Linked DNA regions of Homo sapiens. The protein of the gene in region 2 purifies or fractionates together with the protein of the main gene of each other region. This does not show direct contact. Each region holds a gene or a part of one and is shown on either strand. Other genes may lie near its edges.

Region 1 (3,749 bases), on a different chromosome or scaffold from region 2:
CGTCGGGCACAGGATGTTCTGGGGTTCTCTTGTTGGGTGGTTCTGTTAGGAGAGGAGGCTCTGGGATCGTCCCGTTGGGCACAGGATGTTCTGGGGTTCTCTTGTTGGATGGTTCTGCTGGGAGAGGAGGCTCTGGGATTGTCCCGTAGGGCACAGGATGTTCTGGGGTTCTCTTGTTGGATGGTTCTGTTAGGAGAGGAGGCTCTGGGATCGTCCCGTCGGGCACAGGATGTTCTGGGGCTGTCTTGTTGGGTGGTTCTGTTGGGAGAGGAGGCTCTGGGATTGTCCCGCTGGGCACAGGATGTTCTGGGGTTATCTCGTGTGGCTCTATTGGGAGAGGAGGTTCTGGAGGCTCTGGGATTGTCCCGCTGGGCACAGGATGTTGTGGGGTTGTCTCGTGTAGCTCTATTGGGAGAGGAGGCTCTGGGATTGTCCCGCTGGGCACAGGATGTTCTGGGGTTGTCTCGTGTGGCTCTATTGGGAGAGGAGGTTCTGGAGGCTCTGGGATTGTCCCGCTGGGCACAGGATGTTGTGGGGTTGTCTCGTGCAGCTCTATTGGGAGAGGAGGCTCTGGGATTGTCCCGCTGGGCGCAGGATGTTCTGGGGTTGTCTCGTGTGGCTCTATTGGGAGAGGAGGTTCTGGAGGCTCTGGGATTGTCCCGCTGGGCACAGGATGTTGTGGGGTTGTCTCGTGTAGCTCTACTGGGAGAGGAGGCTCTGGGATTGTCCCGCTGGGCACAGGATGTTCTGGGGTTGTCTCGTGTGGCTCTATTGGGAGAGGAGGTTCTGGAGGCTCTGGGATTGTCCCGCTGGGCACAGGATGTTGTGGGGTTGTCTCGTGTAGCTCTACTGGGAGAGGAGGCTCTGGGATTGTCCCGCTGGGCGCAGGATGTTCTGGGGTTGTCTCGTGTGGCTCTATTGGGAGAGGAGGTTCTGGAGGCTTTGGGATTGTCCCGCTGGGCACAGGATGTTCTGGAATTCTCTCGTTGAGTGGTTCTGTTGGGAGAGGAGGCTCTGGGATCGTCCTGCTGGACACAGGGTGTCCTGGGGTTTTCCCGCTGGGGAGTACAAGTAGGAAAAGAAGTTTGGGGGTTGTCCTGCTGGGTAGAAGAGGTTCTGGGGTTATCCAGTTGGGTGCTTCGTGAGGGAGAGGAAGCTCTGGGGGTGTTCCACTGTGTAGATGAGGCCCTGGGGGTGTCCTCTTGGGTGGATGAGGCCCTAGGGGTGTCCTCTTGGGTGGATGAGGCCCTGGAGGTTTCCTGTTGGGTGGATGAGGCCCTGGAGATTTCCTGTTGGGTGGATGAGGCCCTGGAGGTGTCCCTTTGGGTGATTCGATGGGGAGAGGAGGCTCTGGGGATTTCACGTGTAGAGGCAGCCTGAGCAGTGTCCCTTTGGGCAGGAGAAGCCTGAGACGTGGTGCTTCGAGGTCCACTGTGTGGTGTCATGGAGGAAGCCTGGGTCAGTGTTGACCGGTGCCGCTCCAGGGACAACCCGCTTTCTCCCCGGAGCCTTGCCCAGTGCTGTCCTGCGCTCCGGCCCCCACCGCCGGTGTCTGGAGAGAGAAGAGAGGGGCTCAAGGTAAGGGGAGAGGTCCAGGCAGCTCTCATATTCTACCTTTCTTTGTCCCTTAGGACCAGTGATTAGGGCAAACCCCACACCCTCCTCCTACAGGTCTCACTGTCTGTACCAAGTGACTCCACCTCTCTGACCAAGGCTGATTAGACAAGGGCTTGGATGCCTCTCTCAAGCTGAGGTCAAGAATTTGAAATTGAGACCCTGACTCACTCAAGAGATGGGTTCAAGAACTGGAAGGCCACAGGGTCTGGGGATCCACGGACAAGACAGAGAAGAAGCAAATTTGTGGAGAGAAGTGTTGACAATGGCCTGTGTGACCCCAGGGAGGGAGAGGTGGGCCCAACAGCAGCCACCTGACAGTCTTCCCTTCCCAGTTCTATTTCCTTCAATCAGAATCCAAGGAATTCCCCCCATTTCTTGTTTTGTTTTGTTTTTGAGTCAGAGTCTCGCTCTGTCGCCCAGGCTGGAGTGCAGTGGCGTGATCTCGGCTCATGGCAACCTCCGCCTCCCAGGTTCAAGCCATTCTCCTGCCTCAGCCTCCCGAGTAGCTGGGATTACAGGCATGCGCCACCATGCCCAGCTAATTTTTGTATTTTTAGTAGAGACGGGGTTTCACCATGTTGGCCAGGCTGGTCTCGAACTCCTGACCTCAGGTGATCCGCTCACCTCGGCCTCCCAAAGTGCTGGGATTACAGGCGTGAGCCACCATGCCCGACCTTTTTTTTTTTTTTTTTGAGACAGAGTCTCGTTCTGTCACCCAGGCTAGAGTGCAATGACGCGATCTCGGCTCACCGCAACCTAAGCCTCCTGGGTTCAAATGATTCTCCTGCCTCAGCCTCCCAAGTAGTTGGGATTACAGGCATGCACCACTATGCCCAGCTCATTTTTGTGTTTTTAGTAGAGACAGGTTCTAATGAGCCTGTTTCCTGTGCGACAGCTCTAGAAAGCCCCTGTTTTTTTGTATCCAAATGTTCCTACCCTGAGGCTTCTCCTAGGGCTGCCATGAGGATAGGAAAGGTGCAGGGATGGACAACCTTTTATAAACTGGTAGCTGGGAGTTTGCCAGAAATGCAGAATCTCAGGTCCCAGCCCAGATGCACTGCTTCTGGATCTGCATTTAACAAAACTGTCTGGTGATTTGTACACCTTATAGTTTCAGAAGCACTGGCCTAAAGGATTAATGTAACTGTCCTCAGTAGTGACCCTCTTTGCAACTCCTAGCCTCATGACAGAGTTGCCATGACCTTGGTGTGTCACCCTCCACCCCGCTCAATCCCTCGGTCACCAAGCAGGTGTTGAGCACCCCTATGTACATGTCCCTTGGCTACTGCTTTAGGTGAAGAGTAAAGGGTATCATGGCCTCATCTTAAAGGAGCCACAACTATGGGTGTGGTGGCTTACACCTGTAATCCCAGCACTTTGAGAGGCCAAGGTGGGAGGATCACTCGAGCTCAGGAGTTCCAGACCAGCCTAGGCAACATGGCGAGACCCTGTCTCTACTACAAGTTTTTTAAAACTTAGCAGGGCCTGGTGGTACGTGCCTGTAGTCCCAGCTACCTAGGAGGCTGAGGCCGGAGGAGTGCCTGAGCCCAGGAGGTGGAGGTTGCAGTGAGCCAAGAATGTGCCATTGCCCTCCAGCATGGGCAACAGAGCAAGACATTGTCTTAAAACAAAAAACGAAACAAAAAAGTAGCCACAGTTGCCTTCATGCAGATCCCCTCCCTTCACGCCTTCTTAAGATCCCCTGTCCTCTCCCTTTGCAGCCACTGCCTCGTCCAGCCTCTCTGGGCTGGTGTTGGTGAAAGTCTGAGTTCCCAGCACCTAGCAGGGAATTCAAAATTTGCAAGGTTGCCAGGCACGGTGGCTCACGCCTGTAATGCTAACACTTTGGGAGGCCAAGGCGGGTGGATCATCTGAGGTCAGGAGTTCGAGACCAGCCTGGCCAACATGGTGAAACCAGTCTCTACTAAAAATACAAAAATTAGCTGGATGCAGCCGGGAGCAGTGGCTGATGCCTGTAATCCCAGCACTTTGGGAGGCCGAGGCGGGCGGATCACAAGGTCAGGAGATCGATACCAGCCCTGCTAACACGGTGAAACCCCATCTCTACTAAAAATACAAAAAAAAAAAAAAAAAATTAGCCGGATGCAGTAGTGCATGCCTGTAATCCCAGC
Region 2 (3,749 bases):
GCACAGTCATGATGATAGGTTCACACTTTCTTTCGTGTAGCTTGTAGAACCTATAAGGGAGCAGGGTTCAGCACCCTCGCAGACTTCCACGTCCTTAACTTCTCCTGTCTAAGACCAAGGGGGTTGGAGGCCAACACTTGCTCAGCGCCTACCATGCATATTGCACATTACACACATTATTGGTTCTGCAATAAAACACCCTGATGGTGTGTTCACCATCATCTTATAGATGAGGAAACTGAAGTTGAGAATGTAAGGCTAGTGAGCGGTGGGTCTGGCACTGAAACAGAGCTGTCTTATCCCCCCGCCCCGCTTTTCCAAAGCACTGCATTACTGGGGAAGCCCCGTGGCTAGGACCCGACATGAGTGGGGGACAGAGGCGGGTAGGTGTTCAGGAGGGGCCAAGGCTGCTGACCGGGCGATCTCACACTTGCTGACATCCAGTCCCCTTTTGGGCATGAAACCCATGCCCCGCTGCGGCTCTTTGCTGCTGAACGTGTTCAGGTAGTGCACGAAAGGCGGCTCGTCGGTAATCTCAAAGTACCGAATGCTGCTGTCGCCCTGCAAAATCAGTCGGTTCAGGGGCGCGCCCGGACAAGGCCCTCCACATCTCCATCCAGTGCCCTGTTCTCCCTGCCCGGCCGTGAGCACCTTGCCACACAGGTAGACGATGCTGGAGTCGGGATCGTAAAAGGGCAATAGGACCCCGTTGCTTGTGTCCATCTCCTGCAGTGCCACTGGCTCCTCGAAGTTGTTCTGCCCGAGCACAGGAGGCGTGACCAGCCCTGCCCCACCCTCCCGTGCTACTTCGGGACCCCCAGAAGCCCCTTTACGCTTCCTGGCCTTCCCAAACCCTATGCCCCAAACCTCTAGTGACCAGAGTTGCAGGCCCCTCCCCTGGGCACATCTCTCCTCCTCCCCTGCGCACATAGCTCCTCCTCCCCTGCACATATACCCGCTGCGCGCCGCATGCAGTCACAGCAAACCACCCCCAGGGACTCGGCATCACCAGGTGGGGGCGCCAGCGCAGGATCCTTCACGCGACGCAGCAAAACTGGGCAGAGGGGTGGGTGTGAGAATGGCAGGCGCTGCAGAGGTGGCAGCAGCCTTCAGTCCTGTCCAGGTGGGCATGCCCTGCGGGTGGGGGGCGCCTGGCCACTCTCCCGTGATGCCAGTCCCCGAGGCACACACCCCAAGCCTCCAGCTGCGTTACCGGGTCCCACAGGCCCAGCTCTCGCTGGCTCATGCGGGTGAAGCCCGTGGTGAAGATATGGCCCTGGCGCGTGAAGACGGCCCGCATGGGCCTCATCCCCTCGTGGGCCGCAAACCTCTCCTGGGGGGAGGGGGAGACAGGGAGGGACATCACCCAGCTGCCTGCCCTGAGGAGCATGGAGGGATGAGCAACCAGCTTGCTGACTTGGGTGTCCGGGGTGGAGGAGCGGATGCGGGGAAGAGACAAATGGGGCCTAAGCACTCAGCTTCCTGCGGGGCCACGTCTGGCCCCTGACCTGGAGAGCATCCGGGCCTGGAGAGAGCAGGAGGCACGCGGCTCTCAGCCGATCCCGAACCCTTAAGCGCGCTCAAAGGCCGATCCCTAGAGCAGGGGTGTCTGCTGGCTCCCCGGAGTCGCAGCGAGGCTTTTCCCGAATGGGAGCTCCCCGCTCCGCTCTGGCCTCTTGGGCGCCAGCCACAGCCCGGGAAGGCGCTCCCGGCAGACCCAGAGAAGGAGCGAGCTAGCGCGCCCGGCGCGGCCTGGCCTACCGGGTCCCAGAGCGCGAGTTGCCGCTCACTCATCCTGCTGAAGCCGGTGCTGAGCAGCTTCCCGTCTGCGGTGAAGACAGCCCGCAGCGGGCGGGCGCCCTCGTGAGGCCGGGCTTGCTCCTGCTCGCCGGGTTAGTGGGTTAGAGCGCCCCGGCGCCAGCCCCGACCGCTCTCGGCGCGCTTGCTCCACGCAGACATGCACGCGGCCCACGCACCCGCACCCCAGGTTAGACTTGAGGCTGGCGAGGCCAGGGCCGCCGCCCTCCCAGGGCATCCGGCTGGGATAAGCAACGCGCGAGGGTTGCCCCATCCCCCGCCCAGCGGGTCCACAAGGAGAAAGGGCCAGCCCTCGAGCCAGTGTCAGGCCCCAGACCCTGGAAGATGCGTCTGGGTGCCGGCTGAGAGGAGAGGGGTCCAGGAGCTCAGGTTTCATGCAGGTTCTGGTGGGAGGATGGAGTTTCCAGCTTCTCCCCTCCTCAATCCCAAAGCGAGGAGCCCTTCTCTGAGCTTCTGAGATGCAAGGGAGGGGAGGGAACAGGAGCCGGGCAGAGAATTGCAGGCTGGGGGCTTACTTAGGGCAGAGACCTGTGGTTGCAGAGACGGGGGAAGGGGGCTAGTCTCTGGAGCAGGGATGCGACAGGTGAAAGCCGGGACCAGGGGCTCTGATAATGGTGGGTACAAGGGTGCTGACAGCTGGCCACTGGTCAAGGGGTTCTGGGGAGTGGCCAGGCCAGGCACTCACCGCCACCACTTGGCCTTTTCTGGGGTCAATGATGCGCAAGGTCTTGTCCTTGCAGGTGGTGGCTAGCAGGCTACCGTTGCTGTTCCAGCACACACTGTGGATGACGTCTGGGTGCATATCATCCAGGCTCAGCAGCACCTCCCCGGTGCCCACATTCCAGATGATGATCACATTGTCACCACCTGCCCAGAGTGGCCAGGCATGGTCACCTGGGTCCCACCTTTGCCACCACCCACCCATCTATGGGGGACCCCTCCTTAGCCCCCAGACCTGCACTGAGCAGGACATTCCTGGCAGTAGGGTGCCAGGAGAGGATGCCCACACGCTTGGAGTGGCCCTCAAGTGTGATGATAGGTTCCGTAATGTTGCGCATGGGGGTATAGTCTGGAATCTGCCACACCTGGGTAGGAAGAAAAGGTATATGGTGGGTGGAATGAGGAGCCACCCTGTCCCTCCACTCCTTCCCTACCTTTTTTTTTAACCCTACTGGCTCTCTTGAGTGGTAAGGGTCAAATACAGGGCAAGATGTGGTGGTGCATGCCTAGAACAGAAGCAGCTGGGAGCCAGGAGGGGGCACTGCCAGCTCTCCAGAGACCTCCCATTCACTCCAGCAGGGAGACTTCAGAGCACTGCCCTGCTGCTCTCCAGGCACCAAGTTGGCCATGGCTATAATTAGTCCTAAGCAGTGCATCCTGGGAGGGGGTGGGCATGTAGCTAAAAATAGTCCAGGAGCTGGGCAGGGCAGGGCCCTGGGACCCAGCACCTCCCTTATTACCACCCTTAGCACCTTCCCCAGCACAGGTGAGGCAGCCTTCCCTGCTCCCCTGCTCAACTGCCCAGCAGTAGCCACCTGGCTCCTACCATGATGGTGGTGTCGTCTGAGGCACTGGCGATAACGTTGTCATTGTGTGGACACCAGTCAATATCCAGCACAGGGGCAGTGTGCCCAGTGACCAGTGGGTAGTTCTTATCCACTCGCCCTGTCTGAGGGGTTGGAGAAGAAGATGTGGGGCTACTCTCCTGTGTGTTTTTTGGGGAGTGGGTAGCAGATCTGCTTACATCTCGATTCCTTATTACCTATTTTCTCTTTGCAGATCCCTCTCTGCACTTCTAACCCCATCCAGTCCACTTCCTGCACTTTACTGAAGGCAGAGTTGAAATAATTTAATATTAGGGACTGTGACACAGAGAGGTAAGATGGCCTCATCAAGGACACACAACAAGATACTTGTAGAGCTGAGATTTG

What was found. The genes of interacting proteins can lie anywhere in the genome.
Region 1: the proteins of CORO6 (region 2) and TRIOBP purify together in Homo sapiens (affinity purification with mass spectrometry; 2 studies listed by BioGRID and IntAct, with this or other methods). This does not show direct contact.

Annotation. Positions count from the first base shown.
Region 1 is NC_000022.11:37,720,988-37,724,736, reverse strand, and holds part of TRIOBP (TRIO and F-actin-binding protein), read right to left. Parts: intron 1,553-3,749; coding exon 1-1,552.
Region 2 is NC_000017.11:29,616,287-29,620,035, forward strand, and holds part of CORO6 (coronin-6), read right to left. Parts: intron 3,488-3,749; coding exon 3,365-3,487; intron 2,904-3,364; coding exon 2,774-2,903; intron 2,686-2,773; coding exon 2,504-2,685; intron 2,347-2,503; coding exon of another isoform or gene 2,191-2,346; exon of another isoform or gene 1,334-2,190; coding exon 1,214-1,333; coding exon of another isoform or gene 1,192-1,213; exon of another isoform or gene 1,055-1,191; coding exon of another isoform or gene 956-1,054; intron 757-955; coding exon 652-756; intron 562-651; coding exon 416-561; exon of another isoform or gene 415-415; intron 51-414; coding exon 1-50.